2 linked regions of the Homo sapiens genome follow. The protein of the gene in region 1 interacts with the protein of each later gene in a biochemical or structural test. Each region holds a gene or a part of one and is shown on either strand. Other genes may lie near its edges.

Region 1 (3,744 bases):
CTAATATACCTCACTCTGCAACTTACGGAAGCTGAGGAAGATCAGAAAAAGACCACACTCCTCACTCAGAATATTTATTATATTCTGCCCCATGGGGCCTTGCAGGAAAAGGGACCCAAGCTATACCCCTACTCCTTTTCCAAGCTACTTTCCTGAACCAAGGGACAGGATTCTAAGAGAATCATGTATCTCAAATAAGCCAGAATGTATCTGGGGAAGAATAGCCATTAATTTCCTAGACCTGACACTGGGTTTATTTGTGTCTGCCAGGAAGACGGGGAGTCAGTGAGAATCGTAAATGGACTAGATGAGGGGAAATAGGATGGGCCCTTCTTTATCACAGCTTGAGCTCAAAAAGGTTGGGATAAACAGGTGTTTAAAAAAGAGAGGAGGTAAAAGGGAGGATGGGCAGGGGATAGAGGAAGGTCAGGGGCTGGGTTCACCCATATCACACAGCATTGTAGGAAGAAGCAGGGTAACCATTTGAGTTCTCAGCCTGGAACAGGGAGGTGAGGGCTCAGCACCTAGAGAGAGGAGAATCCTAAGGCCTCTCTTTCAACTCTATTGTGATTAGATGCAAAAGCCCTTTCCCTTTAGAGAATTCAGAATGGTCTGTCTGAAGGCAAGAGAGCATAGTGACAGACCTGTAGCCCCAGCCCAGGCTGTTTCTCCCCATTCTCAAAGGCTCTGCCAGGAGAACTATAGAAATACAGAGTCCCAGGTCTCTGCCCCTCCTCCCCAGATCCAAGAGAGGGAGTAGAGACAAGGCACAAAGACCCTGGACGTAAAGGTGAACATCAGTGTGGCCACATATAACATTATTTTGAGAAAGGAAAGAAAGTGCATGCCCCAAAAGGGATGCCTTCCTTCACCTTGCAGGTAGCTGGAACTTTGATAGTGGCAGAAACCACAATGGAGTAGGGTTCACAGAAATGGCCTGTGAAACAGACCCTATTCCTAGAGAGACAGAGGAAAAACCTCAGCTGGTATGGCACAATCTTGAATGGGATGACAGAGGGCAGCGGGCAGACTTCTCCCGCAGGTGACACTCCTGCCTCAGGTCCCAATGGTTCTGCTGACTCCAGATGTTCCCCATAGCTGGGACTCAGAGAGGAAAACGTGTTGTGTTTCACATGATCAGACACTGTTCACCACTGGCACCTGGTGGGCCCGAAAGATTGAGGGCATCCAGGTCAAAGTTGAGGCCAGGAGGCTGGGGAAGAGATGAAGGGACTCAGATAGTTGCTCATTTTTTAGGACAGACGTGAAGATCCATCCCCAGTAGCCACAATTTTCACCTTAGGTGGAATCCTGAGAGGTTAAAGAATTCTGGAAATTGGGGACTCAAATTAAAATCTGGAAAAATAAGACATACTCACCATCTCTCCAGCCAGCTCTTTTGGAGGATGGCCTAAATCTTGTAGCTAGAAAATAAGGAAAATGGAACATGAAATAGAGAAAAGCCCAGAAAACAACAGAGGATCCAGAAGAGGAATCTAATGAATGATCTCTCTATTTCTTCTGAGAGAGATCACAAGAGAGGATCCCTCCTCCACCTAGGTCTAGCAGTATTGCATCCTTCCCAGATACTTCCTTCACTGAACACCTAAGTGGACAGCACCAGTGGGCAGAAGGCAAGAGGCCTTACCTGCTGCATAAGATCCAGCACCATCTCAAAACGAGCCTTTTGAGTGGTTTCACTGTCTGTGGGGGTCTCTGCCTCAAACTGCTCACATATTTTGCACATGACGCTGTGCTGCTCCTGATATTTTTCAAACTGCTCTGGAGGTAGAGATTCCCGATGACTCTGCAACCATTCTGGATACTAAGAAAAGAGAGAATGGGTGGAAAAGAATTAAGTGAACAATGGATATGGATGGGTAATCAGAACAATGTGATTAAAATGTGAAAGGGAAAGGGACGTAGAAAAACGAAAAGCTAAATAAGTAAGTTCATCATGAAAAGCGGCACTGACTCCAACCAGATCACCTGGCCATGTTAGCATTTATGGTCACCAGAGATTGGTAAGCTTCTGTAAAGGGCCAGACAGTGAATATTTTAGGCTTCAAGGGCCACATATGGTCTCTATTGTGTTTTTTTTTTCTTTTTTTTCGAGACAGAGTTTTACTCTGTCACCCAGGCTGGAGTGTGATGGTGTGATCACCACTCACTGCAGCCTCGATCTCCCCAGGCTCAAGCAATCCTCCCACCTGAGCCTCCCCAAGTAGCTGGGTCTACAAGTGTGCACCACTGTGACTGGCTAATTTTTTTGTATTTTGTAGAGACAGGGTTTCATCATGTTGCTCAAGCTGGTCTTAAACTCCTGGGCTCAAGCAATCTGTCCACCGTGGCCTCCCAAAGCGCTGGGACTATAGGAGTGAGCCACTACGCTCGGCTATTGCACATTTTCTTTGTAGTTTTTTTCAAATGACCTTAAAAATGTAAAAACCATTATTTGCTAGAGAGTTGGATTTGTCCCACCCAGGTCTTGGCCTGCTGACTCGTGGTCTGTACTATTCATTACACACTTACCCACATTTCCCCATGTCACTGAAAAGCTTCTATTCCTGTATTTTATCTCTCCAGTAAAACTATACACTCTTTAGCCAGGTGTGGTGGCTCACACTTGTAATCCCAGCATTTTGGGAGGCTGAGGTGGGAGGATCACTTGAGCTCAGGAGTTTGAGACCAGCCTGAGCAATATAGTGAGAGCTCAACTCTACAAAAAATTTTGAAAACATTGGCCAAGCATGGTGGCACACACCTGTAGTCCCAGCCACTCAGGAGGCTGAGATGGGAGAAACACTTGAGCCTGGGATGGGGAGGCTGTGGTGAGCCAAGATCGTGCCACTGTGCTCCAACTGGAGCTAGACCCTGTCTCAAAACAAAATGATACAACCACACATATAAGCTCTTTTATGGCAGGGACCATCATTTAAACTACGCTTACACTGTTCACATCACAAAGCCAGTAAGTAAATCCTCAGTTAATTCTTTTTCTTTTTCAGATGGAGTCTTGCTCTGTCACCCAGGCCGGAGTACAGTGGCACAATCTCAGCTCACTGCAACCTCTGCCTCCCAGGTTCAAGTGATTCTCCTGCTGCCTCCTGAGTAGTTGCGATCACAGGCGTGAGCCACTACGCCAGGATAATTTTTGTATTTTTACTACAGACGGGGTTTCACCATGTTGGCCAGGCTGGTCTCGAACTCCTGACCTCAGGTGATCCACCCGCCTCGGCCTCCCAAGGTGCTGGGATTACAGGCATGAGCCACCATGCCCAGCCAAATTCTTGCTGGAGAAATGAAGTCAGAAATGCAAGATTGATCAGACAACAATCCCAGAGTCTTGAACCAGTTTATAGAAAACTAGAACTGAAGGATTTCCTCTTAGACCCCAAACGTTATACCTCTTATACCCCAACATACCGTGTGACAGCTTTATTCTCTCAGAGACACAACTCTCCCCAACCCCCAACTCTCCCTGCCTCAAATAAATAAAGAAGGAAAAAAAGCACACTCGAGTTACTCTTTCTGCAGGCTCTGAGTAGACAAAATAGCCCACATCAGTTGATGTGATGGAAAATGAAGAGAAAAAGCAGAAATGGAAGTTCACAAACCTTTTCTGTGATCTCCTTCAGTGATGGGTACAGCACATCCTTGGAGAGTAGGTTCTGCATAATACTCTGCATGATGGGGAGGATGTTCCCTTCCCCATCCCCTTCGTCCATGCCTAGCCCCTCCATG
Region 2 (3,744 bases), on another chromosome or scaffold:
GTGTCCCGCCGCAGTGGCGGCCTGGGCCCGGCATCTCTGGTCTGGGGGCCCGGGAAGGCAGCTGAGCCAGTTGGTAGCCAGGCAGGCCTGTGGGCTCAGGCGGGGGTGGCCTTGACCCCAAGTCCCACTGCTGTGCTGGGCGCTGCTCATTAACCTCCGCTTGGGCTGAGTCATGCCCATAATGCCGGCCTGCCTGGCCAGCCAGCTCTGCTGGACGCCGGCCTTCAAAGGGCCCAAGGGCCCAGGAGGGGCTAGGCAGCAGGCTGCGTCCCTCGGTCCCCGCTCATGAATGGCAGGCGTCTCCTCCTGGCTGGCTGCAGGAGTGGGGCGGGCAGGAGCTCTCGAGGCTCAAACCGCTAGGATCGCAGCTCTAAGGCCAGGACAACCTCCTTGAGGAGGAGAGGAAGCAGAAGTGGCCTCGAGCGTGCAGGCAACCAGCACAGGACAGTCCCCACCCAGCCTTCCTGCCTCTCCACTGCCGCGCCTGAGTCCACGGCTGCCCAAAGGCCCTGCCCACCCCAGCCCGGCTCTCCCATGGCCTGCCCACACCTTTGGCATCAGCCCCGGCCCGCCCCAGACTGTCCCCACCGCTCACGGCTGCCTGCCCCCGGGCCTCCCTGCCACACGCTTCCCTCCGTGCCCGGCACCCCAACCTGCCCCACCTCATGGCCCCCATAGAAGGCGATCTCCTCCGAGTTGGCCACCACACGCGAGTGCATGTAGCGCAGCTCCCCCTTCCGCCGCGCCTCCTCTGCCACCAGCTCCCCGAACTTGGGCGAGAAGGCCCGCAGCACGTTGGCCGTGAGGAACACCACGAGGCCGGCGATGGCCGAGGGCCAGGCTGTGCCGGCTCCACGGGAGCGGGCCGCCCGAAGCAGGGTGTAGGAAGTCACAGCCACGTCCAGGAGTGGCTTGGTCAGGTTGGAGTAGAGGTGGGCCACAGAGGCCGCAAAGGCCACCACGTCCTCCGTCAGAGACTGGTCAGGGTTGCGAAGCCGCCCGTCCATGTTGCTGACCCGGTAGTAGGTCTGCTGGGAGAAGTAGAGGCGGTAGGCGTGGGCCACCAGACGGCTGCGGAACGACAGGGCCAGTTGGCCCTCCAGGTAACGGATGGCACTGTTGACGAAGGTAGCAGGGAGGGCGATGAGGAGCCACTGCAGCAGCTGCCAGCCAAAAGCCCGCGGGTCCTTGCGGACGATGCAGCGGGCCAGCCTTCCGTCCAGGCGGGCCACATACACCGACAGGAAGGTGCGGCTCACCAAGGCGGCCGAGTGCAGGGCCAGCAGCCCCGTCTCCCGGCACAGGACCCGGGGGAACAGCAGCCGCAGGAGCCACAGGAGCCGCTGCAGGAATACCCGGTTCATGCCAGCTTTGGCCGCCGCGACCCCGGAGGCCTCCTGCGTGGGCTCCCCGGCGGGCGCCTGAAGACCCCTGGCCGGGGCCAGGCACTGGCGCACCAAGGGGTAGACTTTGTGGGCTCCATAGGCCGCGAGGGCCAGGAGCACGGCCGTGCGCTTCAGCGTGTTCCCCCGCCAGGGCCGGGGCCTGGAGAGCACCGGCATGTCACCTGGGCTGGCTGCCGCGTAGGGACTGGGGCTGGTGCCTGGGGCAGCAGTTGAGGCAGGTGGCTGGAAGGATTGTTGCTCTGACCCTGGGCCTGTTGTCTAGGCAACTGGAAACCTTGCGATGGCCCCTGAGACTGTCGCTTTAGGCCCCCGGGGTGGTGCTGGGGCCCCTGGTGCGGTGGGCTCAGGGCCCTCCAGGGTCGCGGCCTCTTCGGGCAGCCCAAGTGGAGGAACTTGGCTCTCCTGTCCTGTCAGTGCCCTGGCCCCTGAGGTCAGGGCCTTGAGAGGTCTCGGGCAGAGGGGGCGTCTCTTCCTCTCCACCTTCTCCTCCTCCTCCTCCCCCGGTGGCGCCCCTCCCCGGGGCACCAGGCGCGTCCGTCCGCTCCGCAGCCTGGCTGAAGCGACAGTGACTCCTCCACCGGCCCAGAATCCCCACCCACTCTTCCCCAGGGGCGAGTCGGGGGAAGGGGAGGAGGCGGAGGAGGGGCGAGGGGCGGAGTCCGGGCGCGGGAGCCCCACCCTGTTCTCGCCCCTCGGCGGGGCCCGCCCACACCCCCACCTCCCGTTCTCGCCCCTCGGCGGGGCCCCTCCCGCACCACAGAGACGTGGGACGGCCGCGCGGACTAGAGAAGCGGCCCTCGCCGGCCCGACAAAGCCCCGCCCCGCCCCGCCCGCGTGCTCGCTCCACCCCGCCCTGCTCGCCCGGAGCCCGAGGCGCCTCTTCCTCTCCCGCTCGGAGCGCCGGCCCTCCGCTCCGGGGCGGGGTGGGAAGCGGAGGTGGGCGGAGCCTCCGGGGCCTCGCGAGGGCTGGTGGGCGGTGCCCGGCGGGCGCTTCCGGTTTCCGGCCGCGGTATGAGGGGCGGGGCCGGGGCTGCTGTGGGAGAGTTCTGTTGCTGCGGCGGGGCCTGCACGTTGACTGTGGGAAACTCGGTGAGCGGGCTCCGCGCGCCGGGCTGGGCTCCGGGACCGCGGAGGCTCCCCGGCCCATCGACGAGGGAGAGAGGCGAGCGGCGCGGGGAGGCCCGGGGGCCGGGGAATCTCGGGGCCCGCAGCCTACCTGCGTGTGAGAGGCAGGGGCGAGGGGAAACCGGGCGGCGCCTCTAGAAGCTGGTCTCGGGGGCGGGGCGGGGGGCGGTGAAGCCCCACCTGGAGGAGCGGCCGGGATGGGCCTCCGGGACGGTGTGCCAGGCCGGGGCCAAGTCGGAGGCCCCTCGCTCTGGGTGGGCGCTGGGGCCCGCGAGGGCTACTGTAAGGACCCCTGGCTTCTGAGGATACTGCGTCTAGAACTTTCTCCGTATGGGGCCTTGAGGTGCTTGGTCGAGACCTGCCTTTGCGCTTGGTCCCGAATCCTGCCCTCTAGGAGTCGCTCTTGCGGGCCTCCAGCCCACCGGAGGCGAAGCGGCCCCGGGCGGAAGGCCGCTGGATCCTCGAGGGAGGTGCCGGTTTCTCTCCGCGGGCGCCGTGGGGACGGTGGGAGGCGGGGGCGTCGGCAGCGCTTGGACTAGGTGCGGCCTTGGGCCTGCCTGGTAGCGGGGATTTGGGCCCGCAGAGCGCCCGCCTCTGCGGCTGAGTTCTGCCTGGCGGGGAAGGGAGCGCCCGATGGGTGCCGAGGCGTCCTCCTCTTGGTGCCCTGGCACTGCTCTTCCCGAAGAACGCCTTTCAGTTAAACGGGCGTCGGAAATCTCGGGCTTCCTGGGGCAGGGATCGTCGGGAGAGGCCGCTCTGGACGTGTTGACACACGTGCTGGAGGGGGCAGGTAATTGACCAGCGAACGGAAGTTTGTGGGGCCTGTGAACGCTGCTGGCCAAGAGGCCCTGCCGAGTGGAGCCCTGCTTCCGCCAGCGCATCAGAGACTTTGAAGCAAAGTGCAGGGGGTCAGGGTGGAGAGTGGCGGCCCCAGCCTCGCAGGGTAACTGAACTGGATGTTCTTGGCTGCCCAGCGCTTACAAGTCCCGTACCTTTTGTGCCCTGCCAGGAAACAAGCTCACATCTTCCTGTGGGAAACCTTCTAGCAACAGGATGAGTCTGCAGTGGACTGCAGTTGCCACCTTCCTCTATGCGGAGGTCTTTGTTGTGTTGCTTCTCTGCATTCCCTTCATTTCTCCTAAAAGGTATGGCCTATGGAGCAAGCAGGCGAGTTAGGCAGGAGGGTGCCTGTGCCCTAGCCCTGGGACTGGTG

Evidence for each region. The genes of interacting proteins can lie anywhere in the genome.
Region 2: the proteins of PEX19 (region 1) and ABCD1 form a complex in vitro, tested with the Homo sapiens proteins (3 studies listed by BioGRID and IntAct, with this or other methods).

Annotation. Positions count from the first base shown.
Region 1 is NC_000001.11:160,278,422-160,282,165, forward strand, and holds part of PEX19 (peroxisomal biogenesis factor 19), read right to left. Parts: coding exon 3,618-3,744; intron 1,826-3,617; coding exon 1,649-1,825; intron 1,425-1,648; coding exon 1,380-1,424; intron 1,214-1,379; coding exon 1,130-1,213; 3' UTR 1-1,129. UniProt on the Homo sapiens protein: Necessary for early peroxisomal biogenesis. Acts both as a cytosolic chaperone and as an import receptor for peroxisomal membrane proteins (PMPs).
Region 2 is NC_000023.11:153,723,085-153,726,828, reverse strand, and holds the start of ABCD1 (ATP-binding cassette sub-family D member 1), read right to left. Parts: upstream 1,974-3,744; 5' UTR 1,563-1,973; coding exon 663-1,562; intron 1-662. Other genes in the region: BCAP31 (B-cell receptor-associated protein 31), read left to right, coding at 3,165-3,321, 3,541-3,676. UniProt on the Homo sapiens protein: ATP-dependent transporter of the ATP-binding cassette (ABC) family involved in the transport of very long chain fatty acid (VLCFA)-CoA from the cytosol to the peroxisome lumen.